Linked DNA regions of Homo sapiens. The protein of the gene in region 2 purifies or fractionates together with the protein of the main gene of each other region. This does not show direct contact. Each region holds a gene or a part of one and is shown on either strand. Other genes may lie near its edges.

Region 1 (15,607 bases), on a different chromosome or scaffold from region 2:
TTCCGGTTAAAAAGTTTTAGCCAATTATTGGGAAGACAAAAAACACTTCTCTTAAGTTTCTATTGGACTTAAATACCCTGAACTTCAATCTTTAGTTTTACTGAAGTCTTTTGGGAAAGGGAATAGGTTCAATGTAGACAAAACTTTAGAGACAGTGTTTGGAGGTCATACACTTCCTCTTTATTTTCCTTTTATAAATCTAGTCCTTAAGTCAGGGCGCTGATAATACATAGGTCTATTATAGACACATACAGGCCTATTATATGCTGGTATAGTATAGACAAGCCATATTTGCTTTTTTTCATTAGGTAGTAGTATAGTTGAAAGATCATGAGCTTTAGGGCAGATATACCTGGATTGTAAATCTACTCTTAATGTGTGACTTTGAGTATTCTACTTAATCTTGTACAACTTCAGTTTTCTGACTATAAAATAGTGAAAATGTGAGGATTAAACAACATGCTACTCTGGGCATACTGCCTATGGGTTATCCCTGGTTTGCAAGGAGCAGTGAAAATAAACAACATGAAATATGTCCCTTACCTATAACACATATGGTTCCTTTATCTATGGTTCCCTTTGGAACTTAGAACCACTATCTAATAGTTGCTATCAGTGCCCTAGATCCTTCCTGCAAAAAACAAACAAACAACCTTTCTGGACAGTATAGTTTTTGAAAAGATGGACAGTTCTATTCTGGAACTTAGAACGAAATATTACTTTGACAGTAAGGTCAGAGCCTGTGTGCAGGCATTTGGATCCTTACATTCAGATAATGTCTAGGAAGAAGGCTTCTGGAAGAGAGAAATAGAAAAGAGAATGTTGGAGGAGATGGACTCTCTTACCACTTTGTATTTTGCAGGTTATTGAAGAGAGGGAAAAACTAAAGAATGACCGGGAAGCCCGCCAGAAGAAGATGTACTATCTTAGGACCGAGTTAGAGCGGCTTCATAAACAACAAGGTATCAGCTGCTTTGCATGACTGCCTTTTTGTAATAACTTGCGTAGGAGACCCAAATTTGGTACTCTCACACAGGTTCAGTAACCTGAAACTTCATTAAAAATTTTTTTTTGACGTAATTAAACTTACAAAAAAGTTGCAATAATAGTGCAAAGAATTCTCAGGTACTCTTCTCCCAGATGATGGTGGTGGTGATGATGATGATGATGATGATGATGATGATGATGATGATTTGAGACGAAGTTTTGCTCTTTCACCCAGGCTGGAGTGAAGTGGTGTGATTTTGGCTCACTACAACCTCTGTCCCCCGGGTTCAAGTGATTCTCCTGCCTCAGCCTCCCAAGTAGCTGAGATTACAGGCACCTGCCACCATGCCCAGCTAATTTTTTTCGTATTTGTAGTAGAGATGGGGTTTCACCATGTTGACCAGTTTGGTCTCGAACTCCTCACCTCAGGTGATCCACCCGCCTTAGCCTCCCAAAGTGCTAGGATTACAGGCGTGAGCTCCCACACCCTGCCAGATTATTAACATTTTAATACGCTTGCTCTATCTTTTTCTCTCTCTCAATTTGTGTGTATGTGTGTGTGTAATTTTTCCTGAACTTTTTTTTTTTTTTGAGATGGAGCCTCGCTCTGTTGCCCAGGCTGGAGTGCAGTGGTGCAGTCTTGGCTCACTGCAACCTCTGCCTTCTGGATTCAAGTGATTCTCAAGCCTCAGCCTCCCAAGTAGCTGGGATTACAGGTGTGTGCCACCACACCTGGCTAATTTTTGTAATTTTAGTAGCAATGGGGTTTCATCATTTTGTCCAGGCTGGTCTCAAACTCCTGGCCTCAAGCAATCCTCCTTCCTCGGCCTCCCAGAGTGCTGAGATTACAGGCATGAGTCACTGCACTGGCCTTTTCTGAACTTTTTAAAGTAACTTGTAGATGTGATGTTCCTTTACTCCTAAATACTTAAGTATTTCCTAACAACAAAGAAGGTACATAACTTTAATACACTTATCAAAATTAGGATATTAGCAGTGATACAGTACTATTATCCAGTCTACCATTCTTACTCATATTTCACATTGTCCCGTTAATGCCCTTTATAGCAAAACAAAGTGCAAGATTATTTATCACATTCAGTTTTCACGTTCCTGTACTCTTCTTTAATCTGAGTGTTTGTATTTCATAACATTAACATTCTGGAAGATAAGAGGTCACATATTTTGTAGAATATCCCTTAATTTTGATTTGTCTGTTTCCTTATGATTAAATTCAGGTTATTCATTTTTGGCGAGACTATCACAGAAATGATGCTGAGTTTGTATCAGGTGTTGATTTGTCCCATTGCTGGTGATGTTAACTTTAATTATTTGGTTAAGGTGGTGTCTGCCAGATTTCTCCACTATAAAGTTACTGTTTTATCCTTTTTAATTAATATGAATCTTATAGAGGAGATACTTTGAGACTATGTAAATATTCAGTTACTCCTCAGACTTTCACCCACTGGTTTTAGCATCCATTGATGAGTCTTGCCTGAGCCAGTTATTATGATAATAGTTATTTAAAAATTTTTTTTGAGACAGGGTCTCGCTGTGTCACCCAGGCTGAAGTGCAGTGGCAGTGGCATGATCTCAGCTCACTGCAGCCTCGCTTCCTGGCTCAGGTGATCCTCCTGAGTAGCTGAGACCATAGGCATGAGCCACCACGCCTGGCTAATTTTTTTTTTTGGCTAGAGACAAGGTTTTGCCATGTTGCCAAGGCTGGTCTCAAAACTCCTGAGCTCTGCAGCCTCCCAAAGTGCTAGGATTACAGGCATGAGCCACTGTGCCTGGCCTGTGATGGTTATCAAATAGTGATTTTTCAAGGTTCCTCATTCCTTCTAGCTTTATTAGTTGGCTTTCCACTGTAAGAGGGAACTTCCTAACCCTCACTCCCATTTGTTTATTCATTTATATGAGTATGAATTCATGGATTCTTCATTTGATAAGTTATAATCTTTTATTATCATTATTTATTTTCATGCTCAAATTGTTCCAAATTTGGCCAATGGGACCCCCTGTGAGTTAGCTCCTGTGTCCTTTCAATATGTCTCCATCGTTTTTGAGTACTTTCTTTTTTTCTTCTTTTTCTTTCTTTCTTTGAGATGGAGCCTCGCTCTGTTGCCCAGGCTAGAGTGCAGTGATGCAATCTCAGCTCACTGCAACCTCCACCTTCCAGGTGCAAGTAATTCTCCTGCCTCAACCTCCCAAGTAGCTGGGATTACAGGCGTGTGCCACCATGCCCAGCTAATTTTTGTATTTTTAGTAGAGACGGGGTTTCACCCTGTTGGCCAGGTTGGTCTCTAACTCCTGACCTCAGGTGATCCGCCTGCCTCGACCTCCCAAAGTGCTGGGATTATAGGTGTGAGCCACCCCACCCGGCCTTTTTTTCTTTTTTTTTAAGAGACAGGGTCTCATTCTGTTGTTCAGGCTGGAGGGCAGTGGTGCTGTCATAGCTCACTGTAGCTTTGAATTTCTGGACTCAAATGATCCTCCCATCTCAGCCTCCCAAAGCACTGGGATTACAGGCATGAACCACAGTGTCTGGTCTTTCCTTAAATTTGGCACACACACACAAAAATGTTCCCTGATGCCTTCCTTTTTATTCCATTTCTTTATGCTTTTAGGAATTCACATACACAGTGAGGAAAAGAACATAACAAGGCTCCTAAATACTGATAGTATGAAAGAACAGAGAGTGGGAGAAGATATAATTGCTTCTGTCTGGGTTTGGACTGTTTAGGGATGAGAAATTGAGTTATTTATCCTGTGAGGATTAACACCAGAGGATCTGCAGTTTGGAACAGGAGATAACATTAAAAAAGCCAGCTGGGTGTGGTGGCTCACACCTGTATCCCAGCACTTTCAGAGGCTGAAGCAGGCAGATCACTTTGAGCTCAGGAGTTCAAGACCAGCCTGGTGACATGGCAAAACCCCATCTCTACCAAAAAAAAAAAAAAAAAAAGATAAACCAGAGGCAAAACCTAAAACTCATTGAAGAAGTTGTTAAAGTGTCCTTAGATCAGATAAAGTCAAATATATTACCCTCTAAATAATTCTTCAGCCCTCTGAAGAGAGGACAACTGCTAAATTCATAGTTACAACACTTATTAATGTTTTTGAGAGACACACACAAAATTATATATACTGTTATGGGAGTTCATGGAGCCCCTGAAGCCTGTCCATAAATCCTTAGCTAATAACCTTTACACAAAAGATAATGTCATAACCCATTCTTTACCTTCATAGAAGCTTCACTTACACCAACCCATGTGGAAGGAGAGTCTCACTTGCTCTTAGAAAAAAAAATTGTTTTTTGAGACGGAGTCTCTCACTATCACCCAGGCTTGAGTGCAATGGCATGATCTTGGCTCACTGCAAGCTCCGCCCCCTGAGTTCAAGCAATTCTCCTGCCTCAGCCTCCCGGGTAAATAGAATTACAGGCGCCCACCCCCATGCCCGGCTAATTTTTTGTATTTTTAGTAGAGACGGGGTTTCACCATGTTAGTGAGGCTGGTCTCGAGCACCTGAACTCAAGTAGTCACCCGCCTTGGTCTCCCAAAGTGCTGGAATTACAGGCATGAGCCACCACGCCTAGCCACTCTTAGAAACGTTTGTGGGCAAAGACTTTGTAACCATAAAGCCCTGACAAATTATTGCTTGTAAATGAGAAATGACTCGTCTTATTTTCCCTGTGCTTCTTTTTGTTGACATTTGATTGCTCAGGAGAAATGCTGCGCAAGAAACGAAGGGAGAAGGATGGCCACAAAGATCCTCTCTTGGTGGAGGTGAGTCGGCTTCAGGATAACATTATGAAGGACATTGCAGAGCTACGGCAAGAGGCAGAAGAGGCAGAAAAGAAGCAATCTGAACTGGACAAAGTGGCTCAGATCTTGGGAATTAACATCTTCGATAAATCCCAGAAGTCTTTAAGTGACAGTAGAGAGCCTACAGAGAAGCCTGGGAAAGCAGAAAAATCTAAGAGCCCAGAAAAAGTGTCATCGTTCTCAAACTCCTCCTCCAACAAGGTAACAACTCAATTTTTCCATTTCTATCATCTTTTTTTTCCCTTAGACTCCTATGGTTTTCTAACCATTTTCTTAACTTAGGTTTTCAAACTGTTCTTACTCTTGTTAATTATTTTCTTACAGTATAGATCAGAGTGTGGTACTCCTCTTCAGAATTTCAGCATAGTTCCTTGTTGCCCACAAAGAATCCTAAATCCTCAGTATTCAGAACCTTCTATGTTCTTGTTCCAGCATTTACTCCCTAACCCACTCCTATCTGGCTTCTGATCTTCTCAGAACTTGTATATACCCTTTTGGGGGGTTCATATTTAGCAACTATGTTCATGTCTAGGTCACTACTGTGTTGCTAAAGTCAGTAAATACATTTTACTTCTCAAATGAGCAGCATTTGAGGCCAAGAATCACTTTCTCCTACAAATACTCTTTTCCCTTGGCTTCTGTCACACTTCTTTTCCTCGTAGTACATTGGATGCTCCTGCTTAGTATCCTTTGCTGTCTCTCTTGCATAATCTTTAAATTTTTGAGTTTCTCGGGGCTCAGTCCTTGCCAGAATTTGCTCTTTCTTCCTAGGCCATTTCATCCAGTCCTATGCTAAAATGCCATGTGACAATTGCCAGTTTTATGTTCTAGTCAAATGAGTCTTCTGAGTGTCTAACAACGTAACTCACCATTTCCACTTCATTATCTCATAGGCACTTGAAATTGAGCATGTCCTAAACTAAATTAATGGTTGTGCTCAACCTCCTTCCAACTTTTTCTTTCTCCATTGTTATGCATTCTCAATGAATGGCATACTGTCCGACAGTTTTCATGCCAACAACTTAAAAGTCACTCTCAGTGCTCTGCTTTCCCTAACTGCTCCATATGCAATCAATTACAAATTCTGTCAGGTCCCTCTCCAAAGTAAATCTCGATTCCATGCACCTTATCATCTCCATTGACATTCAAGTCCAAGCCACATCAGTTTTTGCTTATGTTGCTGTGTTAATTAACTCTTTTTGCACATATAGCCAGTGATCATGATACTTAATCCCTTGCCTACCTCCTCAACCTCATTTCATGCCTCTTTCCTTCTTGCTGACTGTAGTTTCATTACTAACCTTTTCATTCCTCAAATGTATCATCTCCTCTCGTGACCTCACATTTTCTGTTCCCTTTCTTTACCATGCAAATCGAACTCTTTCCTTATCTACTCTTCTAACTCCAATTCATCCTTTAGATTGGATCTTAAATTACTTCCCTGACATCCTTCTCTGATTCCCTAGACTGTTAAATTTGCCTGATATACACTCCCATAATATCTTGTAATTTTCCTTCTTAACATTTATGACAGATCTGATTTTATAATTAAATGTGTTCCCCTAATTTGATTTTAAGGTTCAAAAGTTACAGGGACTTTATATGTGTCATTGTTCAATATGATTCCCAATATATAGCCCAGGGCCCAGCACATAGTAATGAATACTGCTGAAGAAACATTATATTACATCTTACGCTGCGTCACCTCAAAATGCAATTTTCCGGATGTGCAATATCTGGTATTACACCTCTCTGGTTTTGCATAAATAATCCTATTAGCCTGGAATAATCTTTCTCCCAACCCCACTCACCCATTAAAGCCCAATTTGGATACCACCTCTTCCATGAAGAATTTCCAGAATTCCACCCAGATCTAGTCAGCCTTCTTTAGCACTCTGTAATTTGTTTCTTTGTAAAATTTATTTCGTTGTCTTATTTAAAGACTCTTCTTACGTCTGTCTCCACTAAATGAGAGCTGCTTTTTTTTTTTTTTTTTTTTTGGTTAAAGATGGGGTCTTGCTATATTGCCCAGGCTGGTCTTTTGAGACAGAGTTCTTGCTCTGTCACCCAGACTGGAGTGCAGTGGCGCAATCTCGGCTCATTGCAACCTCCGCCTCCCAGGTTCAAGCAATTCTTCTGCCTCAGCCTGCCGAGTAGCTGAGATTACAGGCACGTGCCACCACGCCCGGCTAATTTTTATATTTTTAGTAGAGACATGGTTTCACCATATTGGCCAGGCTGGTCTCAAACTCCTGACCTCGTGATCCGGCCTCCCAAAGGGCTAGGATTACAGGCGTGAACCACCCTGCCCAGCATTTTTTTTTTTTTTTTTTTTTTTTTTTTGAAACAGAGTCTTATTCTGTGGCGTGTGGCGTGATCTTCGCTCACTGCAACCTCTGTCTTCTGGGCAATTCTCCTACCTCAGCCTCCTGAGTAGCTGGAGTTACAGGCGTGTGCCACCACACCCAGCTAATTTTTGTATTTTTAGTAGAGACGGTTTCACCATGTTGGCCAGGCTGGTCTCGAACTCCTGACCTCAGGTAATCCACCTGCCCCCGCCTCCCAAAGTGCTGGGATTACAGGCATGAGCCACTGCGCCCGTCCCCAGGCTGGTGTTGAACTCCTAGGCTCAAGTGATGATCCTCCCGCCTCAGCCTCCCAAAGTGCTAGTATTACAGATGTGAGCCACCCCACCTGGCCCGAGAGGATAAAAGAGGAATCTTTTTTATCTTTGTGTTTCCCATTGCATACAATATGTCTAGCACATAGTACATCCTCAGTTAATATTGAGAGGTAGGAAAGAGAATATATTCTGTGTTATCACCCAAGCTCTATTTTTTTCCATGTCTTCCTAGGAGAGTTTTCTTTCTCAACCAGGTAGGCCTAGTCTTTTATACCTGGGTCTTCAGTCTAGGTAGGGCCTTTGATGGGAGAAGAATTTAAAAGCTCTGGTCCTTTGTAATTGACTTATACATTGGATTTCTATTCATGTACGAACCCAATGATAATCTGTCATCTTGATTTGGGTGCGTCTTCATGGTCTCTGAAACTAACGGATATGTTACAATTCAGTTTTCATCTCAGCAGTAAGGAATATTATGTCCACAGCCTTTCTTTCCTACCTGTCCTTGGTATTTCTTCTTTCTTTACCTCTCTTTAAAATGTATAGTTGGTTTGAGATTTTCTTTCCCTTTCTGTTCATTTCAGAAAAGCACATACAAACTTGTAATTTCATCTACCTAGAGACAACTGTTATTATTACTTTTTTTTTTTTTTTTTGAGACAGGGTCTCACTCTGTCACCTAAGTTGAGTGCAGTGACACAGTCATGGCTCACTGCAGCCTCCAACTCTCAGGTCCAAGCATTCCTCCCACTTCAGGCTCCCCAGTAGCTGGGACTACAGGTGCTCACCACCACCACACTTGGCTAATTTTTGTATTTTTGTAGAGTTGAGGTTTCGCCATGTTTCCAAGGCTGGTCCCGAACTCCTAAGCTCAAGTAATCTGCCCACCTCAGCCTCCCAAAGTGCTGGCATTACAGGCATGAGCCACTGGGCCCAGCCGAGACCACTGTTATTAATACCTTGGTGTATAATATTATTAATACCTTGGTGTATGTTATTCCAAATACATACACCAAGGTATTATTATATATTCCAAATACATTAATTTATTATTAATACCTTGGTGTATGTTATTCCAAATACATACACCAAAGTATTAATTCTGTCCATCAATTCACTTAACAAATATGTATTGGTCACCAATAAAGTGTCAGGAACTGGTCTAGATATGGGAAGTATCACACTGAACAGTATAGACAAGGTTCATATTCTCATTAAATAGCAGAAGATGATAAATAAATAAGTCCATGTTAGGTAATGAGAAGTGCCTAAAAAAAGAAAACAGGATAAGGAGTATAGAGTGGTTAGAGAAAGTATTTTGGATAAAGTGATATTCAACGCTGTATGCCGATTTACATATCTTTGTTGATTATTCAAGTGTATTTTATTAGTTTTCTCAGTATATCATGAACATCTTTCCATGTCAGTAAATACACTTCTATAATACCATTTTTAACAACCTTATTTTTTGTTGTTTTGGTTGCATGGTTAAGCAAAATTTATTTAACCAATCAAATCACCTGTTGTTTGACATGATAATTTCCATAGGATAAATGTCAAGGAGTGAATTGCTGGGTTAAAGGGTATACAGTATTTTGAGGTATGTAATGTATTCCTAGATTATCTTCTAGAAGATGGTGCCAGTTAATACTCCCACCAGGAGTGTATGAACTCTCCCATCCCCTGCCTGTCTGGTGTGATTTCTTTAGTGATTCTTGAATAGGACTCAGGTAGGGAAAGAGTATCTTTGAAGCCCCAATTGTTTCCCTTTCTGTATCCTACCTTTTTCCCTGCGTGAGCCAATATTCCAGGTACCCAGCTCTTCATCTTGTGTACTATAGAACCCCATTCATAGTGAGCCTCTGAGTTGCAAAAATTATCTTTTTTTCCTGTGCCTTACTCCTGAACATTAACCAAAATTCTCATTTCCTGAGTGCCTTGTTCCAGCTTGGTAATAAATTAATTCATATTAAAGTATTTGCTGTTGATAACTTTAATATTAAGAAGTTGATATATTTTTAAAAAGGATACATGTTAACGGTGTTAAAATTTTTTTTTTTTTTTTTTTTTTTTTGAGACAGGGTCTCACTTGTTGCTGAGGCTGGAGTGCAGTGGCACAATCTTATCTTACTGCAACCTCCGCCTCCTGGGTTCAAGTGATTCTCGTGCCTCAACCTCCCGAGTAGCTGGGAATACAGGTGCACACCACCATGCCCGGGTAATTTTTGTATTTTTAGTAGAGATGGGGTTTCACCATGTTGGCCAGGCCTGTCTCGAACTCCTGGCCTCAAGTGATCTGCCCACCTCGACCTCCCAAAGTGATGGGATTACAGGTGTGAGCCACTGCACCTGGCCTCTAAAGTTGTTAAATTCTAAAAGTGATATTTTAGGCAGTTAGGAATGTTTTTCCTAGATTCCTTTAAATCATTCTACATAGATGACTTTATCTATGTGTAGTTGTATAGTCTACTTTATCTATGTACACCAACCCTTCTCTCCAGTTTTTCATACCAGGATGCATGTGATGAGTTCACTATCACCTATTTTCTGCATTTGCTTTGCTTAGCCTGTCAATTACCTTTTCCATATTGGTTTTTCTTCCCTCCCTAGCTGTCATGATTTTCAAATTTAACTGTTTAGTTGCATAGGTAACATATTCAACATTTACTAAAGGGTATACAGTGAAGAGACTCCTACCCATCCTTGTTCTCCACTTCCCTTCCCCAGAGGCAGCCAATGTTTCCACAACCTTGGCTGTTCTTCTAGAGATATTTTAGGATATGTAAGTAAATATATTGCCATTATGATTTACTTTTTATGCTGTGATAGCACTATGAAGTCAAATAGTTCTATGTCTTAGAGACATGTTTCTGTTAGGGTTCCCCCCAACTTGTGCAGCTTTAAACATTGGAAATATGGTCATATGGCCCTATTTCTATTATTATGGCCACTTACTATTTCTAACAGAAGACAAGTCTAGATTGCCTTGAATTCCTTGTAAGTACAGATTTTTCCCCTCTAGGAATCAAAAGTAAACAATGAGAAGTTTCGTACTAAGAGCCCCAAGCCTGCCGAAAGCCCCCAGTCAGCCACTAAGCAGTTGGATCAGCCCACTGCTGCTTATGAGTATTATGATGCTGGCAATCACTGGTGCAAAGACTGCAACACCATCTGTGGGACCATGTTTGATTTCTTCACTCATATGCACAATAAGAAGCACACACAGGTTGGTATCCTACTCTCTGTTATTTTCACTCCCACCCTCACTCTCTTCAAACTTCTATACCCCTATCTGCATTGCAAAGCTGGAAAAGGAAACATTCTCATATGGGCAGGAGCCCCAGTCTGAAGAGCCAAGAGACACCAACAAAGGAGACACCATCCCCAGGGCTCAGTCCAGGGGACTTGGCTGTAACTAAACACCATGACAAGTGTAAGTGAGGTTTCTGCCTCTTTTGATTCCTTGAGTACCTGATTTTTTTGTTTCATTTTACCTTTTTCTGGTACTTGCTCTAACATGTGTTTACCTTTTCCACAGGTGATTTCCATTAAAACAGTTGGCAGAGGGGGTGGGGGTGGGTAGCTGGGGGCTTCTGGTCCCCTGGTCTTATTATGGGGGAAAAAAAAGAGAAAAGTGGGTCATTGAGCTTTTAGTGCTGTTGTGTGAGCACCTCTGCCTCTTACAAATAGACACTGGATCCCTACAACAGACCTTGGGCTTCAAAGACCCAGAGTGAGGCCAAGCAAGATGCCATAAAGCGCACTGACAAGATAACTGTTCCTGCAAAAGGTATGTTTCCTTTTTGCCACCTTTGTGGTTTCCTTACATTCAGTTGAGGAAGAGGTGTCCCTGAACTAACATTGTAGGAAGCAGCATAGCATGAGACAGCCATTCCTTTTAACAAAGCCGTAGGAATGCCTTCTGTGTACAAAACAGTGTACTAGGTCCTGAAGCTATAAAGAGATCTATAAGACCATGATCTCTACCCATATGGCCAAAAATCTATTCACAGATGTTAAACATAGACATGTCACTTAAAACAGAATTGTCTTTGTCATTGGCTTATGGGCCCAAAATCTTACTTGTTTGGAATCCAGGTTAAAAAGGACAGGAGATGCAGTAATTTAACTGCCTTTTCAACTAAGAACTATACAATATTTTGAGTCATTGTTATTAAGGGGTAAGTGGAGAAGCAGAAACTTCCTTTGTCTTTAAACTTCTCAATTTCTTTTTTTTTTTTTTTTTTCCTCTGAGATGGGGTCTCTCTCTGTTGCCCAGGCTGGAGTGCAGTGGTGCTATCTCTGCTCACTGCAAGCCCCGCCTCCCGGGTTCACCCCATTCTCCTGCCTCAGCCTCCCAAGTAGCTGGGACTACAGGCGCCTGCCACCATGCCTTGTATTTTTTGTATTTTTAGTAGAGACGGGGTTTCACTGTGTTAGCCAGGATGGTCTCGATCTCCTGACCTCGTGATCTGCCCACCTCTGCCTCCCAAAGTGCTGGGATTACAGGCATGAGCCACTGTGCTCAGCCCATAAACTTTTCAATTTCTTACCTTCACAAGTAGCTAGTGCTGCTACTATACCCTTGAGATTTACAGAAGATAGTTTCCTCAGTAATTAATACCAACATGAGAGATCATCATAAAATGGTAATGGGCTATTTGGGAGTATAGTTTTTATATTTCCTGAGATGCTTGGTGCTAGTTAGGGTTTGAGGAGACTCAGCAACAGGAATTAATCTGGCACAGGAAACTCCTAAATTAACCAGTATAATGTTCCCAAGAGGTAGAAGAAATAGAGGACTGTAGTTCAAGCCTTAGGTTGGAAAGACTGTGCCATTGGGATTCATCTAAATACTGCTTCTGACTTCAAAGTGGGTAAGGCCCTCTATACTGTAACCATTTTACTGCAAAGGGGTGGTGGGATTTCCATTGGTTGCTGTCATTCTGGGTGGAATCGACTTATTTCCTTGACTTTTTTCTACTTCTTCCAGGCTCTGAGTTTCTGGTTCCCATCAGTGGATTTTATTGCCAGCTCTGTGAGGAATTTTTGGGGGATCCAATTTCTGGGGAGCAACATGTGAAGGGTCACCAACACAATGAGAAATACAAGGTTGGTCTTTGTAGTAGGCTGTGGAGTTTCCAACTTTTCTGAAGTAATTATTTTGACTTTGTCAAATGGCGTCCGAGCCAGAAAAAGCCATTGACACTTCAAATTCCATATAACCTCTAAGTTCTCCTCAATCCTAGTGGGAGATGCTCAGCAGATAGCATCCCGTATGTCCTTGAGGAAGATAATTCTGGGGATTTCTACTAAATGAATTCTAACAGTAGCGGGGCCAAGATTTTTTTCTCTTGTATTTTCACCAGTTTTTGAGTCTTTATCTTTTTTCTTCCCAGAAATATGTGGATGAAAACCCATTATATGAGGAGCGGCGGAATCTGGACCGCCAAGCTGGCTTGGCTGTGGTCCTAGAGACAGAACGGCGACGGCAGAGTGAGCTAAAGCGCAAACTTAGTGAGAAACCAAAGGAGGAGAAGAAAGAAAAAAAGGCAAAGGCTGTGAAAGAAGTAAAGGAGGATGACAAGGTCTCTGAGAAATTAGAAGACCAACTCTCTGAGGGTAGGAACTCCCCTGAAAAAGCTGAAAATAAAAGGAACACTGGCATCAAACTCCAGTTAAAAGAAGAGGTAAAGAAGGAATCACCAACATCATCTTCTTTTGGGAAATTCAGCTGGAAGAAGCCAGAAAAAGAAGAGGAGAAAAGTTCATTGGTGACCCCAAGTATCTCTAAAGAAGAGATTCTAGAAAGTAGTAAGGACAAAGAGGATGGCAAAACTGAAGCTGGGAAGGCAAAGCCTATCAAAATCAAGCTCTCTGGGAAAACTGTTGTTGCACATACCAGCCCTTGGATGCCTGTTGTGACAACTTCCACACAGACTAAGATCCGACCCAACCTGCCTATTCCATCCACAGTACTCCGCAAGTCATGTTCAGCCACAATGAGCAAGCCAGCTCCTCTTAACACCTTTCTGTCTATTAAGTCCTCTGGAACCACTGCTAAACCTCTGCCAGTGGTTAAAGAGTCTTCAGCTGATCTCCTCTTACCTCCAGACATCATCTCCAAAGCATTTGGAGGGGAAGAGGTGATTCTAAAAGGGTCTCCAGAGGAAAAAGTGGTGTTGGCTGAAAAGAGTGAGCCATCTCATTTACCTGAACAAATACTACCACCTCCTCCACCACCCCCACCTCCACCACCTCCACCACCCCCCGTTATACCTCATCCAGCTGCCCCGTCTGCTGCTCAAGCAAATGCTATCTTGGCTCCAGTAAAATCAAACCCAGTTGTATCTCAGACTCTCAGCCCTGGCTTCGTGGGTCCTAACATTTTGAACCCAGTGTTGCCTGTAGCCATCATGGCCTCAGCACAGCCAGCTGCCATTCCTTCTGATGAGACAGCTCCTGGGGTGAGTGAGAGTGACCGAGACCAGACCCTGTTCTCTGTGTTAGTACGTCCTCCACCACCCCTCTCAAGTGTGTTCAGTGAACAAGCCAAAAAATTAGAGAAGCGAAATTCATGCTTAGCCACAGCCAATGCTAAGGACCTGTATGACATATTCTATAGTAGTGGTGGAAAGGGGGCCCCTGAGACTAAGGGGGCCCCTGAGACTAAGCTAAGTGGTGGTCCATTGGCCAATGGGGAAAATAGCAACCTCTCTAGAACCAAAAGTTCAGACACCTCTTCTACTTCTCCTTTGAACAGCAGTGCATCCCAAGAGGAGTTGCATCAAGATGAGGGTTTGGTCGCTGCTCCTATAGTTAGCAACTCTGAAAAGCCCATTGCAAAAACTCTGGTGGCCCTAGGGAAATGGTCAGTTGTAGAACATGTAGGCCCAAAAAGCACAGGCAGCACCTATGGCTTCCTACAGCCTCTGACAAGGTTGTGCCAAAGCAGGCCTTATGAAACAATTACCCCAAAGACAGACACTTTGGCCATATGGACCTCTAGTTCCTTCCAGAGTGACACTAGTAGGGATATATCTCCAGAGAAGAGTGAGCTTGACCTGGGAGAGCCAGGACCACCTGGTGTAGAACCACCTCCTCAACTGTTAGATATACAGTGCAAAGAATCTCAGAAGTTGGTAGAAATCCACCTCAGAGAATCTGTTAACCAGGATAAGGAAAGCCAAGAGCTCCGTAAATCTGAGGATTGTAGAGAAAGTGAGATAGAGACAAACACTGAACTAAAAGAAAGGGTAAAGGAGCTGTCTGAGGGGATAGTTGATGAGGGAGTAAGTACCAGCATTGGACCCCACAGCATAGATGATTCTAATTTGAACCATGGAAACAGATACATGTGGGAGGGAGAAGTAAAACAGCCCAACTTGCTAATGATTGACAAAGAGGCTGAACAGTCCAATAAATTGATGACAGGAAGTGAAACTCCAAGTAAAGTAGTGATCAAATTGAGTCCACAGGCTTGCTCTTTCACAAAGGCAAAATTAGACTCATTTTTATCAGAAGCTAGGTCTTTACTCAACCCACAAGATACACCTGTGAAAATTTCTGCCCCAGAGTTGCTGCTTCATTCCCCAGCCAGATCAGCTATGTGTTTAACAGGTAGTCCACAAGAGCAAGGAGTTTCAGTTGTTAGTGAGGAGGGGCTAGAGAATTCAGCTCCAGAATCAGCTTCTAGAACTTCTAGGTACAGAAGTCTCAAACTCAAGAGAGAAAGATCAAAAGACTTTCAAGTTAAAAAGATCTATGAGTTGGCTGTTTGGGATGAAAACAAGAAGAGGCCAGAGACCTGGGAGAGCCCAGAGAAACCAAAAACAGAAGCACTGGAGCTACAAGATGTCCATCCAGAGTTAACAGTGACAATAGAAAGCAAGGCCCTAGAAGACTTTGAAGCTACAGACTTAAAGGTAGAGGAGCTTACTGCCCTGGGGAATCTGGGGGATATGCCTGTTGATTTCTGCACTACTCGGGTAAGCCCAGCACATAGATCCCCAACTGTCTTGTGTCAGAAAGTGTGTGAAGAAAATTCTGTATCACCTATAGGGTGTAATTCCTCCGATCCCGCTGACTTCGAACCAATCCCATCTTTTTCTGGGTTTCCGTTAGATTCTCCCAAAACCTTGGTGCTTGACTTTGAGACAGAGGGTGAACG
Region 2 (16,501 bases):
GCGCCGGTTTCACTTACAGGGTGTCCTCATAGCTCTCAGGCTCTGGTGAGCCCCAGGCCACGTAAGGGCGGCCCTCAAGGTTGCGCAGGACCAGGCTGTGGATGATCCCCTCGTGGGGCTTCTGCAGCAGCTCCTCAAACAGCCGGAGTGTGGTGATGCTGATCTGGAGCAGGAAGGGGGTCGGCAGGATAGCCCCTTCCCCACCCAGCTCCCAGGGGTGCCTTGGCATGGCTAACCCAGATAAGAAAAGACCTCTGAGGCAGAGTCACCTCCCTTGGCTGGATGCTAAGGTGGCAGGTTTTGGGGGTAGTTGGGGGGTGTGGGCCTAGGAATCCAGAAGTCTGGGTGGTCCCTGGTATGTGACTAATTTGATGTGCAATTTCAGGCAAGCCAATTCGCTTCTCCGTGCCTTACTTTCCATGTCTGAGAAATGGGAGTATCAACCTCGCCTACCTCACGAAGTAGTACGTGTTAGCCTTCCAGCGAGCCAAGTGTGCAAAATATAAAATACTGTAAAAAAATAAGCTGGGAACAGTGGCTCATGCCTGCAGTCCCAGCACTTTAGGAGGCTGAGGTGAGAGGATCGCTTGAGGCCAGGAGTTGGAGACTGCAGTGAGTTATGATCACACCTCTGCACTCCAGGGCCTGGGTGATAGAGCAATACCCTGTCTCTTTAAAAAAAAAAAAAAAAAGTATATGATCATAGAAAATTAGTGTGTGATAAAAGTGGCTCGGCAGTGTTTTGCAGTTCAGTGTCTCAAAGGTGGAGTCAACTGGGAACACTAATGAAATGGGAAGAGTGTTCAGGAAATCCCTCTGGCAGGGGTGGTGAGAGGAACAGAGATGGAGGTCCCCCACTGTACCTCATCAGAGAGGTGGTCACAATGCCCGATGAGATGAGCATACAGGGTGTGGGGGTTGTCCCCGGGGGCTTCAGGCTGCCGGTCTGTGCCCAGGAGGAAAGCCACGGCCTCCCGCAGCAGCGCAGGGGAGCGAAGCTGGCGCAGCATGGCTGTGAGGAGGGCGGTGGAGGTCAAGATGCTCTGCTCGGACCTACGGGAAGAGGGCACCTTAGCCAGGCCCGGTGTGTGCAGACAGCACATGAGTGCGGGTGGCCGAACCCTTCCTGCTTGCCTCGCATGTTTGGCTGGTATGTCTGTGGTCACTTGCCCATCCCTGCTGAGGTCCTGCAGGGAAGGGTAGGAGGCCTTCGTTTAGCCCACGTAGCTCAGAGCCACGTGCACATCATGGGGCAGGCCTGGCAAACATCACCCAATGGGGTCCACAAATGGGATTCTGGTCAAGAAGGTGTCTGGCCTTAGGGACAGGACGAGGCTGGGTGGGGTAGGTGGTTTACTGTAGACCACAGTCATGCCTGAGGGAACTAGACACTTACACGTGCAGGAGCTGGGGCTGCAGGGTCTCCACGAAGAAGTTCTCAGCCACAGCCTTCGCCAAGGCGTCCGCAACCACCTGGGTGCCAGAGAGCGCCAATGTGTTTTGCCCTCATTACAATTCCAGCTGAGAAATAACCGTGTTCTTGCGCGGCGCCTGATGCCACAGGAGAGGGTCCCGGCCCGCCTGGGGCCCCGCTTAGCTCCTGGACCCCATGTTTCCATGTCCCTGCTCCACTTGGTCCTCGAGATGGAGATGGTACAGGGAACAGCATGAGAGCCCGGCCTCCGCCCGCCCCTGCTCACCGTGTGTGCCTCTGTGATGAGGTGGTCGCAGTAATCAAACCAGCCCAAGAAGGCAGCCAAGGCCTCCTTGCCAGGGAAGGAAGCCTCATCAGACGGGGCACTGGGTAACCTGAAGGAAGAGGGGAGTGAAGTCTCAGAGAGTGGAGAAGGAGCTTCAAGGTCTTCCTCAATGTGTCCTGAAACTGGGCCCTTCCCCTCTCCTGTGGAACCTCTGTGGCTGGGGATCAGTTATCTTGGGGGTTTTATGGACAGAGGCAGCAAAACCAGTACTTCCCTGGAGGGCAAGAAGTCCCCTGGGGATCAGCTGCAGCCTTGGGGAGAGGGTGGCCAGCAGGGGTCCCTAGCAACGTGGAACCCCAGGGGAGCTGGCCACCAAAGACAGGCAGGGCTGCCAGCAACTGAAGATGCTGGCCGGCCTTCCCGGGCTGGGCACCCACCTCCAGCTGATGCCCTCTAAGGTGGCAATGTCTGCGGGGTCCAGGAAGACAGGCATGGACCGGTACAACTGGCAAAGGTGCCGGACGATCGCAGGGCAGCAGGCGCTGCTCTGTACCAGGTAGGTGGCAGCTGCTGGGGAGGCCATGCTCACCAGGAGCAGCAGGTTCTCCTGGGCCTTCAAGGCCACCCGACTCTTCTAGGGGATGAGGATACAACTTCAGGGACATGCATGTGAGCCCCCAAATCACCCCCCAGCCGTCAACCCACCCTTCCCCCACCCCCAACCTCTCCATCTCTGCTGCCAGCACCTTGCTCTGGCACAGCCCAAGCAGGGAGGTAATCAGGTTGCTCTCTGTGGTCCCACCGTCCAGCTCCTCGGTCTCAGCAGGCATGTGGCTGTTCAAGGCCTGGGCCCCACAGGACTCCCCGTCCAGCTGGGGCCTGGCAGGAGCACCATCGTGGGAGCAGTCCTTGTCCCCGTGGCTGGTTGTGTCCTTAGGCAGGGCAGTGGGTTCTCCGCATGCTTTCTTCCTACCTACAATCTTTTTACCCTGAAAAGAGGGTGAGATGAGGCCAGACCTGGTGGGGACCACTTCCCAGGGTCCCCCACTGGGACCGCAGGGTGGGCTGCCAGCAGGGCGTCGGCCTGGAGCTGGAGGGGAAGCTGCCTGCGTGCCTCCCGGGTACCTGATCTCTGCTTCTGCCTCCTCAGGAGGGCAGAGGGGGCTTGCCCTGGGGTTCTGGGCCCTCCCCCTCCTGTTCCCGATCAGAGTGCTCACTTCCAGGATGTAGGCGAGCAGCTCTGGGTCCTGCTGGATCTTGGAGCAGAGGACGGTGGTGAACTGCACCTCCTCCTTTTCTGTAACGGATCCGGAAGCAGTCCCACCAAGTCGGAGGAGTTTCTGGAAGAGCACCAGGACAGAAACAGAGGGGAGAGGGGTGGCAGGGGAGAGAGGGGGCCTCACACCCAGACACCCCTTGGCTTCCGGGCCCCTCACCTGCACAGGCCTGTGGACGCTGAGGTAATGCAGCAGGGGGTGCTGCACCTGCGCCAGAACCTTGCTGAAGAACTGGAACACCTGCTGCCGCATGCCTGGGGGGTACTGAGGCCAGGGACAGAGCGCCTGTCAGAGCCGTGTCCCCTGCCTGCCGCATGCCTGGCGGGTACTGAGGCCAGGGACAGAGCGCCTGTCAGAGCCGTGTCCCCTGCCTGCCGCATGCCTGGGGGGTACTGAGGCCAGGGACAGAGCGCCTGTCAGAGCCGTGTCCCCTGCCTGCCGCATGCCTGGGGGGTACTGAGGCCAGGGACAGAGCGCCTGTCAGAGCTGTGTCCCCCACCTGGAACACTGCACCCCCAGAGAGCCCCAGGCTCAACTCCTCCCTCAGTTCCGGCTCAGAGGGCCCGTTCTCACAGGCCTGCTTCCCTTGCCACGTTGTTCGAAACTAGCCTTCCTGGCACTCACAACCCCTTTTCCTGCATCACTGTGCTCCATGACTGGGTCATTATTGACCCATCACAGGATGGTCCTGCCTCTCCCACTAGGATTCTTGTCGAGTTTTCTTTCCTTTTTTTAAGAGACAGTGTCTTGCTCTGCCTCCTAGGCAGGAGTGCGGTCTCACGATAACAGTTCACTGCAGCCTCCATCTCCTGGGCTCAAGCAATCCACCCACCTCGGCCTCCCACGTAGCTGGGGCTACAGGCACGCATCACCATGCCTGGCTCTTGTCAGTATGAATCCCTGCTGTGTCCCCAGCATCTAGAGCAGAGCCTGGCACATGGCAGGCCCATCTTTGTGGAGTGAACTGGGAACAGGAGCGCTGGGATGGTGGAGTGTTCTAAGTGAGACAGCCACAGTGCCCGTCCTGTTTGCTCCTCTCGCCCGAACTGCCACTTTCAGTGTCAGGACTGGGAAGAGCATAGGCAGAAAGGCCTGGAATCCAGGGAGCCCCAGGCTGCCCACTGCCCACCGCCCACCTCAGCCTGGCCCAGCACTCAGAGGGTCTCCCACCTCGGCCTGGCCCAGCGCACAGAGGCCTCCCACCTCGGCCTGGCCAAGCGCGCAGAGGCCTCCCACCTCGGCCTGGCCCAGCGCGCAGAGGGCCTCCCACCTCGGCCTTGCCCAGCGTGCAGAGAGTCTCCAGGATCTTGTGCTGCAGCAGGTACTCCAGGCAGGGCCCTGCCTCACCCGCGGCCGCCTGCTGCTGCTCTTCATACACCAGGATATCCAGCATCTGCTTCAGCCGCCAGGGAATGTCTGTCTTCTTGGCGGGGGTGCTTTCATCTAATGATGTTTGGGAAACAAGGGTGAGTAGGGTAAAGAGGGGCACCCCGGCTTGAAAACTTCACCCTCTCCTGCCAAAGCCCAGAAAGGGGAGGTCCTGTCTGGGAGAGGTGGGGGAAGACAGCTGCTGGCAACTGGGAAATGGAAGTTTACAGTGAATGCTTCAATATTTAAGAAGACAAAAGTCCTTCCAGGCTCAGGACACAGTCCTCTGAGAACGCATGCATGCCCAGCCCTTTATCAGGGGGCAGCAGCATCGGTTTCCTTCAAACCCTAGGATGGGTACAGAGACAGGGACACATGGTCCTGGGCCCACAGAAGGCTGCTGTCAGCTCTGGGCCTGAGTGGACACTGTGGGCTCAGGGCTCTTGTCACATAACTTAGAAGCTGTAATTCCAGCAGCTGCCTGAGAGAGAACCTCCTGGGGCCTCCCCCACTGACACTCAGAGAAGGCAAGCCTCTGTTTTTCACAAAGCAGAAAAAAACATCTGTGCCACCACCTTCAGGTCTGACCCAGTCCTGCTCCCTGTACCAACGCCCTGACGGGGAAGCTACTTAGTGGGGGCTTTTGCAGTCAGAGTCTCAGTGTGTGTTTTAAAGAAAGTTCTGGTGCTTCAGGGCTAGACTTGGAGCACCCCCTAGCTTTCCTTTAAGGAACAGGAGCTTGAGTAGGGCGGCCTGCCCCACGCACTTCCAACCCTTCTGGTCTAGGGACCATTCTGGAAATGAAAGGGCTGGATGGGGGAAGCCCCAGGTGAATTTCAGCCAGTTCTGATCTGATCTTACTGAGCTGGTGGACTGAGGCTCTCCTTCAAGAGATCTTTAACCTGAAGAGATAGGTTCAGAACCAGGGGTGCGCTTTTCCCCCCCAGGGAACATGAGGCAATGTCTGGAGACCTTCCTGGTTGTCCCAATTCGGGGGTGGGGTGTGCTACTGGCACCTAGTGGGTAGAGGCCAGAATTACTGCTGCACATCCCACACCGCCCAGGACAGCCCCGCGCAGGGAAGGCTCCAGGTCCAATGCCAACTGTGCCAAGATTGAGAAACCTGGTCTAGCAGAACCCTCAGAGGGTCCCACAGATTTCTGAATTTCCTGGGCTGGCCCGGGCTGGAAAGAAAGCCTGTAGGAAAGGTGTGGGCTGGGATCAAGCCCCAGTATGAACTCCAGGAAGGGAAAAGTGAGGGATGCAGGATATGGTTACCTGGCAACCAGTCCGTATCCACCCATGGCAGCCTCATGACTGCAGAGCAGCCACTCAGATGCCATCCCCTCAGTGAGCGGTCCTGATGGGACCAGGTGCCAAGGCTTTGGCTCTTTGGGGTGTCAGCTTGGAGAGAGGGACCCAGGCATGTTACCCACCTTGGTTTTCGTTCTCCTCCTACCCCAGATCTCTACAAGGACATTGCCCCTAAGCTGGCTCAGGGGAAAGGGGAATTTATTAAATTCTTTTCTTTTGATCATTAAATCCTAGGCACAAGCACCTGGGGCCTGAAGGTCTGGAGCTGGAAGCTGGGGGAAGTGCAGCCACCTCTTCCTTGCAGAGTCAGGCCAGTGAGACCCCCAACCAGGCTACTCCTTCCTCACACAGCCTCTTTCCAAAAGGTCAGAGTGGGACCGGCAGCTAAATCATCAGGAGTGGAGTGGCCCAGGGCTCTGGGTCTTCTGTCTGTCTGGTTCTCTGTCTCCGTGAACTCGGCTCCAATTCTGAACGACTGGGCAGGTTACCTTTCCCAGGACACCTGAATGGTGACACTCTGCACACTCCTTCCTCCCCGCTCCCTCCAGGGTCCCTGGGCTGGGGAGGGCCAGGCCGCACCTGTGCTCTCGATGTAGTAGTGCGTGATGCCCTTCCAGTGCTCCACGAAGGCCTGCAGCAGGTCAATGCTGGGCTCGCGCTGCGGAGGGCAGACACACAACCTCAGTGGGGGCCACAAAGGCCAGGGAGCCCCTGCCCGCATGGGAACAGATATTCTGAGTGTCAGGTTCATGCTAGGCCTCCTCATGAGGAGGCACCCTGCTCCCTGGCTTTCAAAGGGAGGAATAACACATTTCCTCCAGGACACACTGTCATCTTGCCAAGGATCTCCTGACAGGCACTTCTCCCTAGATACCCCTCCCTCCTGGAAATGCTGTTTTCTTGCTGTATGTCACAATCCTGTCCTGTCTCTGTCCTGGAGGTGCTAAGAATGTTGCTGGGGGAAACAGACACAGATTATTTCAACACAGCATGGTTACGCTACAGTAGAGGCACATAGAGGAACACGGGAGCGCAGTCCCCCAAAGAAAAGCAAAATGATACAGATCGAAAATGTGGCAAAGGTCAGGTGCAGTGGCTCACGCCTGTAAGCCCAACAGTTTGTGAGGCAAAGGTGGGCAGACGGCTCGAGTCCAGGAGTTTAAACCAGCCTCGGCAACATGATGAAGCTCTGTCTCTATAAACAATTTAAAAACTAGCAGGACGTGGTGGTGTCTGCCTATAGTCCCAGCTACTTGGGAGGCTGGGGTGCGAGGATCACCTGAGCCCAGGGAGGTCAAGGCTTCAGTGAATTGTGATCGCAGCGCTGCACTCCAGCCTAGGTGACAAGGTGAGACCCTATCTCAAAAAAAAAAAAAAAAAAAAAAAAAAGACAAAGCTTTTCCATTCCTCTCAATCTGAGAGTCTATGAAAATCTGTTCAAGACCACCACAGGCTCTGTTCAGCCGGAAGGGTAGGTAACATTAGCATGATATTAACAATGTGCCTTCCTTATAACATGCTTACATGCTTTCATCTTGTGTCCAAAGCCTGAGCCTGCACAACCCCAACTCCTCAGCCAGTGCTGTTCTCGTTTCCTCCTCTACCGGCTCCTTCTATCAAGCCCTGGAAAATTCTGGTTCTGCTCTGGGCAAGCCCCTAACCTCCCCCTTTTCCATGAGTGCTCTCTCCATCTCTACACCATGGCTGATACTGGCCTTGCACTGAGAACAATCACTTTCCCTGAAAACTTCTCAAAAACAACAACAACAACAACAACAACACCATTCCTTCGCTTTTCTTGCAGAGTAAATGTTTTCAGGAAAAAAAGAATTCTAATCATCCCTCCCCACAGCTGTGCATTTCTGCCTCTAGGTCTTTGCTGGGGCCACTCCTCTGCCCAAGGTGCTCTGTATCCCACTAACTGTCTGGATCGTGAAAGTCCCCAGTGAGGTTCAGTCCCCAGCAGCTCCACCAAGCCCTCTCCAGTGTCCCTGCCTGCCCACACCTCTCTGACCTCACACTTTACTGCACCACAGAACTGAGTAGCCACTCATGAAATCATTTGTTCATTCTAAGTGCCCACTATGTACAAGACACTATGCTAGATGCCACAAGCAACATGAGGATGACTAACACCTAGTCCTCAAGAAATGTGTCATGGAGAAGACGATATAAAACCGCATTGAATAACGAAGCTACAAGGAAGTAGTGTGAGGCCGCAGGAGAGGTGGAAAGTAGTGACCTCTCAGAAAAACAGGGGTAACTTCTAACAGGCTGGAACAGGGAAGGCTTTACCAAGATCACATCTCAACTAAAACTTGAAGAACCAGGTCAATATCAACAAGAGAAGGAAGACAGTCCCTGCAGAAGGAACTCTGCAAAGTGTGCCTGGGGAAGGGGTGGGCTGGCGAGACTTCGGAGTCTCTAATGCCAAGCCAAGAAGTCTCAGTCATTTTTTGCAGGCAGCAGGGAGCAGGTCAATGACAACTTTTTTTTTTTCTTCTGAGACAGAGTCTCAAAAAAAAAAAAAAAGAGTCTCACCGTCACTGAGGCTAGAGTGCAGTGGCACCATCTCAGCTCACTGTAACCTCCGCTTCCTGGGTTCAAGTGATTCTCCTGCCTCCCAAGTTGCTGGGATTACAGACATGTGCCACCACGCCTGGCTGATTTTTGTATTTTTAGTAGAGACGGGGTTTCACCATGTTGGCCAGGCTGGTCTCAAACTCCTGACCTCAAGTGGTCCGCCCACCTGGGCCTCCCAAAGTGCTGGGATTACAGGCATGAGCCACCACACCCGGCCATTGGCACCTTCTGAGCAGTGTTTTCGGAAGACTCATCTGGCAGTTGGCCTTGGGAGAGGAGGTAAAGGCAGGAAGAATATGCTTAGAAGGCCACTGCAACATGGGGAGGGAGGGATGACATTCACAGAACTGGAAACTCCCCTCAGTCCGCAGGGCATCTTGTCTTCTTGCAAAGCTAGTTGGTAGGGGCTGCAACCCTTCTCAAAAGTAGCACCACCCACAGTTATTCCAAATATTCCATCCCTGTGCAGTGACCGCATCTCACTACATTCTATGTGACAGTGCCTGCTGTGCTGAGCAATCATCTCTTCTGCTAGATGATGAGCTCCCTGAGAGCCAGGGTTCTGTGTTTTACAGCTAGCCTGCCCTCAATGGGCTCAGCACATAGTGAATACCCATGAATATTTACCAGATATCTCAGGAAACTCCTGGAGAGATTCTTTCCCTAGTTCCTTGTTTTAGAAAGTCCTCTGGCCCTTCACCAGCCCTACAATTATCTCATAATTTCTGTGATGGGGTCTCCTTTAGCCTCAAAATTGGCTTATAGTCTTTGAAAACCTTGAGCTGGGCTTTAACCAAAAAGAATACTCCAGTACGGCAGGAGACACGGGAGAGGCAGGTTAACCAGCACAGGCCATTAGAGAGCTGGTGACACAGGTGTGTGATCTTTACCTAACTCCACCACCAGCTATGATAACTCCAAACCAAAGGCACTAGACCCAACAATTTCTCTTTAACGATATTATTAGTGGCCAGACATGGTGGTGGCTCACACCTGTAATCCTAGCACTTTGGGAGGCCAAGGCAGGTGGATCACTTAAGGTCAGGAGTTCGAGACCAGCCTGGCCAACATGGCGAAACCTCATCTCTACTAAAATTACAAATATTAGCTGGGCGTGGTGGCGCAGCCCTGTAGTCCCAGCTACTCAGGAGGCTGAGGCAGGAGAACCACTTGAGGTGGAGGTTGCAGTCAGCTGAGATCGCCCCACTGCACTCCAGCCTGGGTGACAGTGGAAGACTCCATCTTAAAAAAAAAAAAAAAAAAAAAAAAAAAAAGCTGTAATGATTCCTAATCTGTTAGATCAGAAGAGGGCGGGAAGGAGCAGTCTTCCTACTCAATGAGTAATCAGTTGACTTACTAGGATCACACTTGGTGACCAAGGCTTGGGAAAGACCTAGACTGGCGACCTGAGGGTAGAGCACAAAAGAGGAATTCCCGTCTCCCTGTAGGGCCAACCACACCGCCCGGACATAGCCTATATGGTCAATACTAAAGGGCCCGGAAGATCACCTGCCTAAAAAGATCTCCCTCCACTGCCAAAATCTCCTGCCACTGATGCCTGTACTTCTGTCATTGGAAGCCTTAGAATTTGACTCCTAGCCGGGTGCGGTGGCTCATGCCTGTAATCCCACCACTTTGGGAGGCTAAGGATCGCTTGAGGCCAGGAGCTCAAGACCAGCCTGGGCAACATGTTGAAACCCTGTCTCTACAAAAAATACAAAAATTAGCCTGGCGTGGTGCCGCATGCCTGTAGTCCCAGCTACTCAGGAGGCTGAGGTGGGAGGATTGCTTGAGCCCAGGAGGTGGAGGCTGCAATGAGCGGAGATCGCACCACTGTAGTCTAGCCTGGGCTCAGAAATAAATAAATAAATAATAAAAAGAAAAGAAAAAGAAAGAAATTCACTCCTCAGGACTGAGGAACTGTCTGGCCTGTCTCACCTCCTGTAAATGGAGTGTTCCCCAGAGGTATGAATTGGTTTATCAGATCACTTTTGAAGATCACAGCTGTTTTGACTGGGGATGGGGGAAGGGGAAGAAAAATCATTTTGGAACCCTCTCTACCTGGATGCCCCAAGGCCCTGGCCCTGGGTCAACAGCAGGGCTGGGAAGGTGGAGGAAGTCATAGTTTCTGACTTTCTTCCCAACTTTGCCTAAGGCAAACTTCTTTCAACAGGAGCTCCCATGAGGGTTGGGGAGGAGGTGGTGGGGAGGAAGGAGGGTGAAACCCAAGACTTTCTCTCCTGAGAAAATCTGATACTCAACTCATCAATTGGGGGAAGATTTATACTAGGAGGCAGAAGTATTGCTGACTTTACAGACAGCTTCTTGGCAGAGTTACTTTCAACAGCGGGCACCCCCCCCACCCTACCGGGAATACCCCCACCCTTCCTACACAGCGCTACATCTTGCTGAACGAACCCTAGTAGTAGGCTGCCTGCCAGCCTGCAGCCCCAACAAAAAATGGCAAAAACACAAACTGACGGCACGTGAAACATCAATGGACTCTCCTCCCCGCACAGGGCCACCCAGGCCCCACCACGGGCGGCATGTCCCTAACTCAATTTGGCTTGTGAGGGGTCACAGCCACGCTGGAAACATCTGCACCCAATAGAAGGCGATTTCCCCGGCTGGGGGCCCACCAGCCTGCCCCGGGTCTTTACCCTTCGTGGGGACTTGGACCGGCAGGGCCTGCACTTCCCACGTCCCGGGGTGACGGGAAGGGCGTCCTGCACCCCAACAAGGTCCTGGAGTTGTCTGGGAGATCAGACCGAGGGGAAGGGACGGCGATTTTTTCAAGCCCAGGCGAGGCGGTGGGGTGGAGCGGAGGAAGGAGGCAGGCCCACCGGGACTGGGGGGAGGCGGCCTAGGGCCCCGGGGGGCAGGAAACACCCCAAGCGGTGACAGGGAGCGTCCCGGCGGAGGCGAGTTCGGGAATTGGGAGAGACTCCGGGGCCAGGACGCACAGACAGGAAGCGACGCGGGAGCAGGCCGGGGAGGTGGGGCGGTCGGGAGGAGTCTGGGAGCGGGACTGGGAAGAGCGAGGGGAAGCGGGGCGCGGCCGGGGAGGCAGAGGAAGGGGCGCCGCGGCCCGGGGGTCCCTGCCCGAGGGGGCCCGCGCCCGCCCGCCCTCCTGCGGGCCGCGCCCGGCTCCGCGCCCGCCCAGCCCGGCCTAGGCCCGCGACTCCCGGCGGCCCGGCCCGGCCCTGCCGGCCTCACCGCCCCCACGGCTTCCTGCAGCAGCGCCCCGAGCCGGCTCAGCATGATGGCGCCCGGCCCCCGGCTCCCGGGCGAAAGCGGCGGCGGCAGCGCTCTAGGCGGAGGAGGCAGCCCCGTGGCCCCGGCGGCCCCGGCGCGACGAGGGGGGCGGGGCCCGGCCGCTCCGCCCCTTCCCGGCCCGGCTGCGTGGCGCTGGCTAACCCCGGCTGGGGGCGCCCAGTCGGGCTGGGAACCGCCAGCGGTGGGCCCTGAGAGTTGGCTGGGAGGTGTTTTTTTTTTTTTTTTTTTTCTTTCCTTTCTTCCGAGACAGGGTCTCGCTTGGTCGCCCAGGCTGGAGTGTAGTGGCGCGATCTCTGCTCATTGCAGCCTCCAACTCCTGGACTCATGCGATCCTCCAACCCCGGCCTCCAGAGTAGCTGGGTCCACAGGCGCGCGCCACCACGCCTGGCCAATTGTTTTTTTTTTTTGTTTTTTTACTGGGAGGGGAGGTCTCACTGTGCTGCCTAGGATGATCTCCAGCTCCTGGCCTCAAGCGACCCTCCCGCCAGGGCCTCCTGAGTAGCTGGGATTAAGGCGGGAGCTAAGGGAGGTGTTTTCGAAGAGAAATTACAATTCCTCCTGAATTGAAGTCTCAGTCAGCCCCAGGCACATGGGCTGATGAGCTCCTGAAATGTGCTGGTCCCAACCAAGATGTGCCGTGCCAAGCACACCCCGATTTGGAAGATACAGTAAGAAAGGAAAGTGTGAAACTGCAACAACCATGGCTTATATTGATTACATATTGAAATGACTATTAGGTGTGTTGGGTTAAATAACGTATATTGTTAAAATTAACTTCACGTGTTGCTTTTTACTTTTTTGACAGGGCTATCAGAAAATGTTTATGGGCTGTGGGCGGTGGCTCACACCTGTAATCCCAGCACTTTGGGAGGCCAAGGCGGTTTGATCACTTGAGGCCAGGAGTTTGAGACCAGCCTGGCCAACATGGTGAAAACCCGTCTCTACTAAAAATACAAAAAAATTAGCCAAGCGTGGTGGTATGTGGAGGCTAAGGTGGGAGAATCACTTGAACCCGAGAGGCAGAGGTTGCAGTGAGCCAAGATCGTGCCAGTGCACTCCAGCCCGGGCAACAGAGTGAGACCGTCTCAAAAAAAAAAAAAAAAAAAAAAAAGTCTGCAGCTGAGTGTGGTGGCTCAAGCCTGAAATCCTAGCACTTTAGGAGGCCAAGGCTGTTGACCAGCCTGGGCAACATATGAAGATCCTGTCTTGACAAAAAATAAAAATACAAAATAACCAGGTGTGGTGGTATGTGCCTGTAGTCCAAGCTGCTCGGGAGACTGAGGTGGGAGGAGGATCACTTGAACCCAGGAGTTCGAGGCTGCAATGAGCTATGATCGTGCCCCTGCAGTCCAGACTGGGTGACAGCAAAATAGTGTCTCTCTAAGAAACAAAAACCAGTGTCTCTGCTTATCACTGACATCATATTGTGTCCGGAATTGGTAGGTTCATTGGTCTCACTGACTTCAAGAATGAAGCTGTAGACCCTTGCAGGGAGTGTTACAGCTCTTAAGGTGGCACGTCTGGAGTTTGCTCTGATGTTCGGATGTGTTTGGACTTTCTTCCTTCTAGTGGGTTCGATGGTCTCGCTGGCTTAGGGGTGAAGCTGCAGACCCTCGCGGTGAGTGCTACAGCTCTTAAGGCGGCGCGTCTGGAGTTTTTAGTTCCGCCTGTTGGGTTCGTGGTCTCGCTGACTTCAGGAGTGAAGCTGCACACCTTTGCCGTCAGTGTTACAGCTCACAAAAGCAGTGGGAAACCCAAAGAACGAACAGCAGCAACTTATTGCAAAAAGTGAAAGAAAAAAACTTCCACAGTGTGGAAAGGAACCCAAGCGAGTTGCCACTGCTACCTTGGGCAGCCTGCTTTTATTCTCTTATCTGGCCCCACCCTCATCCTGCTGATTGGTAGAGCCCAGTGGTCTGTTTTGACAGGGCGCTGATTGGTGCGTTTACAATCCCTGAGCTAGACACAAAGGTTCTCCACGTCCCCATCAGATTAACTAGATGCAGAGTGTTGACACAAAGGTTCTCCAAGGCCCCACCAGAGCAGCTAGACACAGAGTGTCGATTGGTGCACTCACAAACCCTGAGCTAGACACACGGTGCTGATTGGTGTGTTTACAAACCTTGAGCTAGATACAGAGTGCCCATTGGTGTATTTACAATCCCTGGGCTAGACATAAAGGTTCTCCACGTCCCCACCAGACTCAGGAGCCCAGCTGGCTTCACCGAGTGGATCCCGCACCGGGGCTGCAGGTGGAGCTGCCTGCCAGTCCCGCGCCGTGCTCCCGCGCCGTGCGCCCGCACTCCTCAGCCCTTGGGTGGTCGATGGGACTGGGCGCCCTGGAGCAGGGGGCGGCGCTCGTCGGGGAGGCTCCGGCCGCACAGGAGCCCACGGAGCGGGTGGGAGGCTCCGGTATGGGCGGGCTTCAGGTCCCGAGCGCTGCCCCGCGGGAAGGCAGCTAAGGCCCGGTGAGAAATCGAGCGCAGCGCCGGTGGGCTGGCACTGCTGGGGGACCCAGTACACCCTCCGCAGCTGCTGGCCCGGGTGCTAAGCCCCTCATTGCCCGGGGCCTGCAGGGCCGGCCGGCTGCTCCGAGTGCGGGGCCCGCCAAGCCCAAGCCCACCCGGAACTCCAGCTGGCCCGCAATCGCCGCGCGCAGCCCCGGTTCCCGTTCGTGCCTTTCCCTCCACACCTCCCTACAAGCTGAGGGAGCCGGCTCCGGCCTTGGCCAGCCCAGAAAGGGGCTCCCAAAGTGCAGCGGTGGGCTGAAGGGCTCCTCAAGTGCCGCCAAAGTGGGAACCCAGGCAGAGGAGGCGCCGAGAGCGCTGTGAGGACTGCCAGCACGCTGTCACCTCTCAATATGACGAGAGGGAAAGGAATCAGTTTCCCTCGGGAAGGAAGAATAGCCCCTGTCAGAATTATAGAACCTAGAGTTTTGGGGTCTCGGGCTTCACAGGACCTGCCTCACCTTTTAGGACCCATTCCCCAGTGGGGCTGAGGCACAGGAAATGCTGACCTGCCCAGAGTGGGCTCTGTGCTGTGGTGTGGAGCCTGCAGTCCAGACTCTGAGCCAGGGTGGCCAGTGTCTGGGCCTCAGGCCCTGAGGAGGGCCAGGGTTCAGCCAAGCCCAGGCTGAGTGAGAATTGATTGGGACCTCAGTTCTCTGACAGGTGGGAGTTCCAATTCAGTCTCTGCAGATTTCTAGGCCCACCTCCTCACAGGTAAAGGACCCAGGCTGGATAGGTCAAATCAGCTTGCTTCCCTTCAGCATGTCTCAGAGGACTCTAGGGGATAATGAAAGTACATCAGGAGTTCATAACCTTTTATTCGACTTAACTTTTTACATGTTATTTTTAAAACTCTAATAAAAGTCAGTGTACACACTACATGTGTTATAGTCCAGAAATATCAAAGACCATGAGGTTTTATTAAATTCTGAGGCCAGGTTAGCCCATTTAGGGGAAGACCTTTGAAAAAAGCCTCTCCTATCAGCTTAAATGAAGAGTTGAAGATGATTTCACGGTAAACTGAGTTTTATGTATTCTTTTTTTTTTTTTTTTTTTGAGGAGTCTCGCTCTGTCGCCCAGGCTGGAGTGCAGTGGTACAATCTTGGTTCACTGCAAGCTCTGCCTCCTGGGTTCACGCCATTCTCCTGCCTCAGCCTCCCAAATAGCTGGGCCTACAGGTGCCCGCCACCACGCCCGGCTAATTTTTTGTATTTTTAGTAGAGACAGGGTTTCACCGTGTTAGCCAAGATGGTCTGGATCTCCTGACCTCGTGATCTGCCCACCTTGACCTCCCAAAATGCTGGGATTACAGACGTGAGCCACCACGCCCAGCCCCTATGTATTCATTTTTTTTTTTTAGATGGGGTCTTGCTATGTTTCCCAGGCTGGTCTCAAACTCTTGACCTCAAGTGATCTTCCTGCCTCAGCCTCCCGAGTAACACGGGTAAGCTGCTTTAAACATGCAAGGCATGAAGGCCAGATTCAAGGAGAAGGCCATATGGCTGGGTGCGGTGGCTCATGCCTGTAATCCCAGCACTTTGGGAGGCCAAAGCAGACAGATCACCTGAGGTAGGAGTTTGAGACCAGCCTGGCCAGCATGGTGAAAACCCCATCTCTACGAAAAATGTAAAAAATTAGCCGGGCGTGGTGGTGGGCACCTGTAGTTCCAGCTATTTGGGAGGCTGAGGCAGGAGAATCGCTTGAACTCAGGAGGTGGAGGTTGCAGTGAGTTGACATTGCACCATTGCACTCCAGCCTGGGTGACAAGAGAGAAACTCTGACTCAAAAAAAAAAAAAAAAAAAAAGCCATATAGTCAATGACTCTCAATGTGAAATAATTTGCTCATGCTTTAATTTTTTCATTTTTTATTTATTTATGTGTGTGTTGTGGGGAGGAGGCACTGAGAGGCTCTTCCTAAGGCTTTGTTTTAGGGACAAAGAGCTCCAGTCTGAGCTGCTCTAATTTTTTTTTTTTTTTAATTTTAGTAGAGATGGGTTTTCACCATGCTGGCCAGGCTGGTCTCAAACTCCTGACCTCAGGTGATCCACCTGCCTTGGCCTCCCAGAGTGCTGGGATTACAGGGGTGAGCCACCGCGCCCAGCCTTCTTTTTTTTTTTTTTTTCCATAGGTTATTGGAGAACAGGTGGTGTTTGGTTACATGAATAAGTTCTTCAGTGATGATTTGTGAGATATTGGTGCACCCATCACCCGAGCGGTATACACTGCACCCAATTTGTAGTCTTTTATCCCTCGCCCCTTTCCCACCCTTTCCCCCTGAGTCCCCAGAGTCCATCGTGGGTTTTTTGTTTGTTTTTTTGTGACAGAGTCTTGCTCTGTAGCCCAGGCTGGAGTGCAGTGGCACGACCTCGGCCTACTGCAACCTCTGCCTCCCAGGTTCAAGCGATTCTCATGCCTCAGCCTCCTGAGTAGCTCGGATTACAGGCGTGTGCCACCATGCCCAGCTAATTTTGTGTA

Evidence for each region.
Region 1: the proteins of FHIP2B (region 2) and ZNF318 purify together in Homo sapiens (affinity purification with mass spectrometry; 3 studies listed by BioGRID and IntAct, with this or other methods). This does not show direct contact.

The regions. Positions count from the first base shown.
Region 1 is NC_000006.12:43,337,732-43,353,338, reverse strand, and holds part of ZNF318 (zinc finger protein 318), read left to right. Parts: intron 1-862; coding exon 863-962; intron 963-4,713; coding exon 4,714-5,015; intron 5,016-10,459; coding exon 10,460-10,663; intron 10,664-11,127; coding exon 11,128-11,227; intron 11,228-12,430; coding exon 12,431-12,549; intron 12,550-12,836; coding exon 12,837-15,607.
Region 2 is NC_000008.11:22,084,256-22,100,756, reverse strand, and holds the start of FHIP2B (FHF complex subunit HOOK-interacting protein 2B), read right to left. Parts: upstream 11,608-16,501; 5' UTR 11,504-11,607; coding exon 11,459-11,503; intron 10,997-11,458; exon of another isoform or gene 10,903-10,996; intron 6,318-10,902; coding exon 6,239-6,317; intron 6,148-6,238; exon of another isoform or gene 5,904-6,147; intron 4,421-5,903; coding exon 4,248-4,420; intron 3,242-4,247; coding exon 3,137-3,241; intron 3,041-3,136; coding exon 2,918-3,040; intron 2,690-2,917; coding exon 2,447-2,689; intron 2,335-2,446; coding exon 2,138-2,334; intron 1,810-2,137; coding exon 1,701-1,809; intron 1,474-1,700; coding exon 1,397-1,473; intron 1,054-1,396; coding exon 864-1,053; intron 164-863; coding exon 18-163; intron 1-17. UniProt on the Homo sapiens protein: Able to activate MAPK/ERK and TGFB signaling pathways. May regulate the activity of genes involved in intestinal barrier function and immunoprotective inflammation. May play a role in cell proliferation.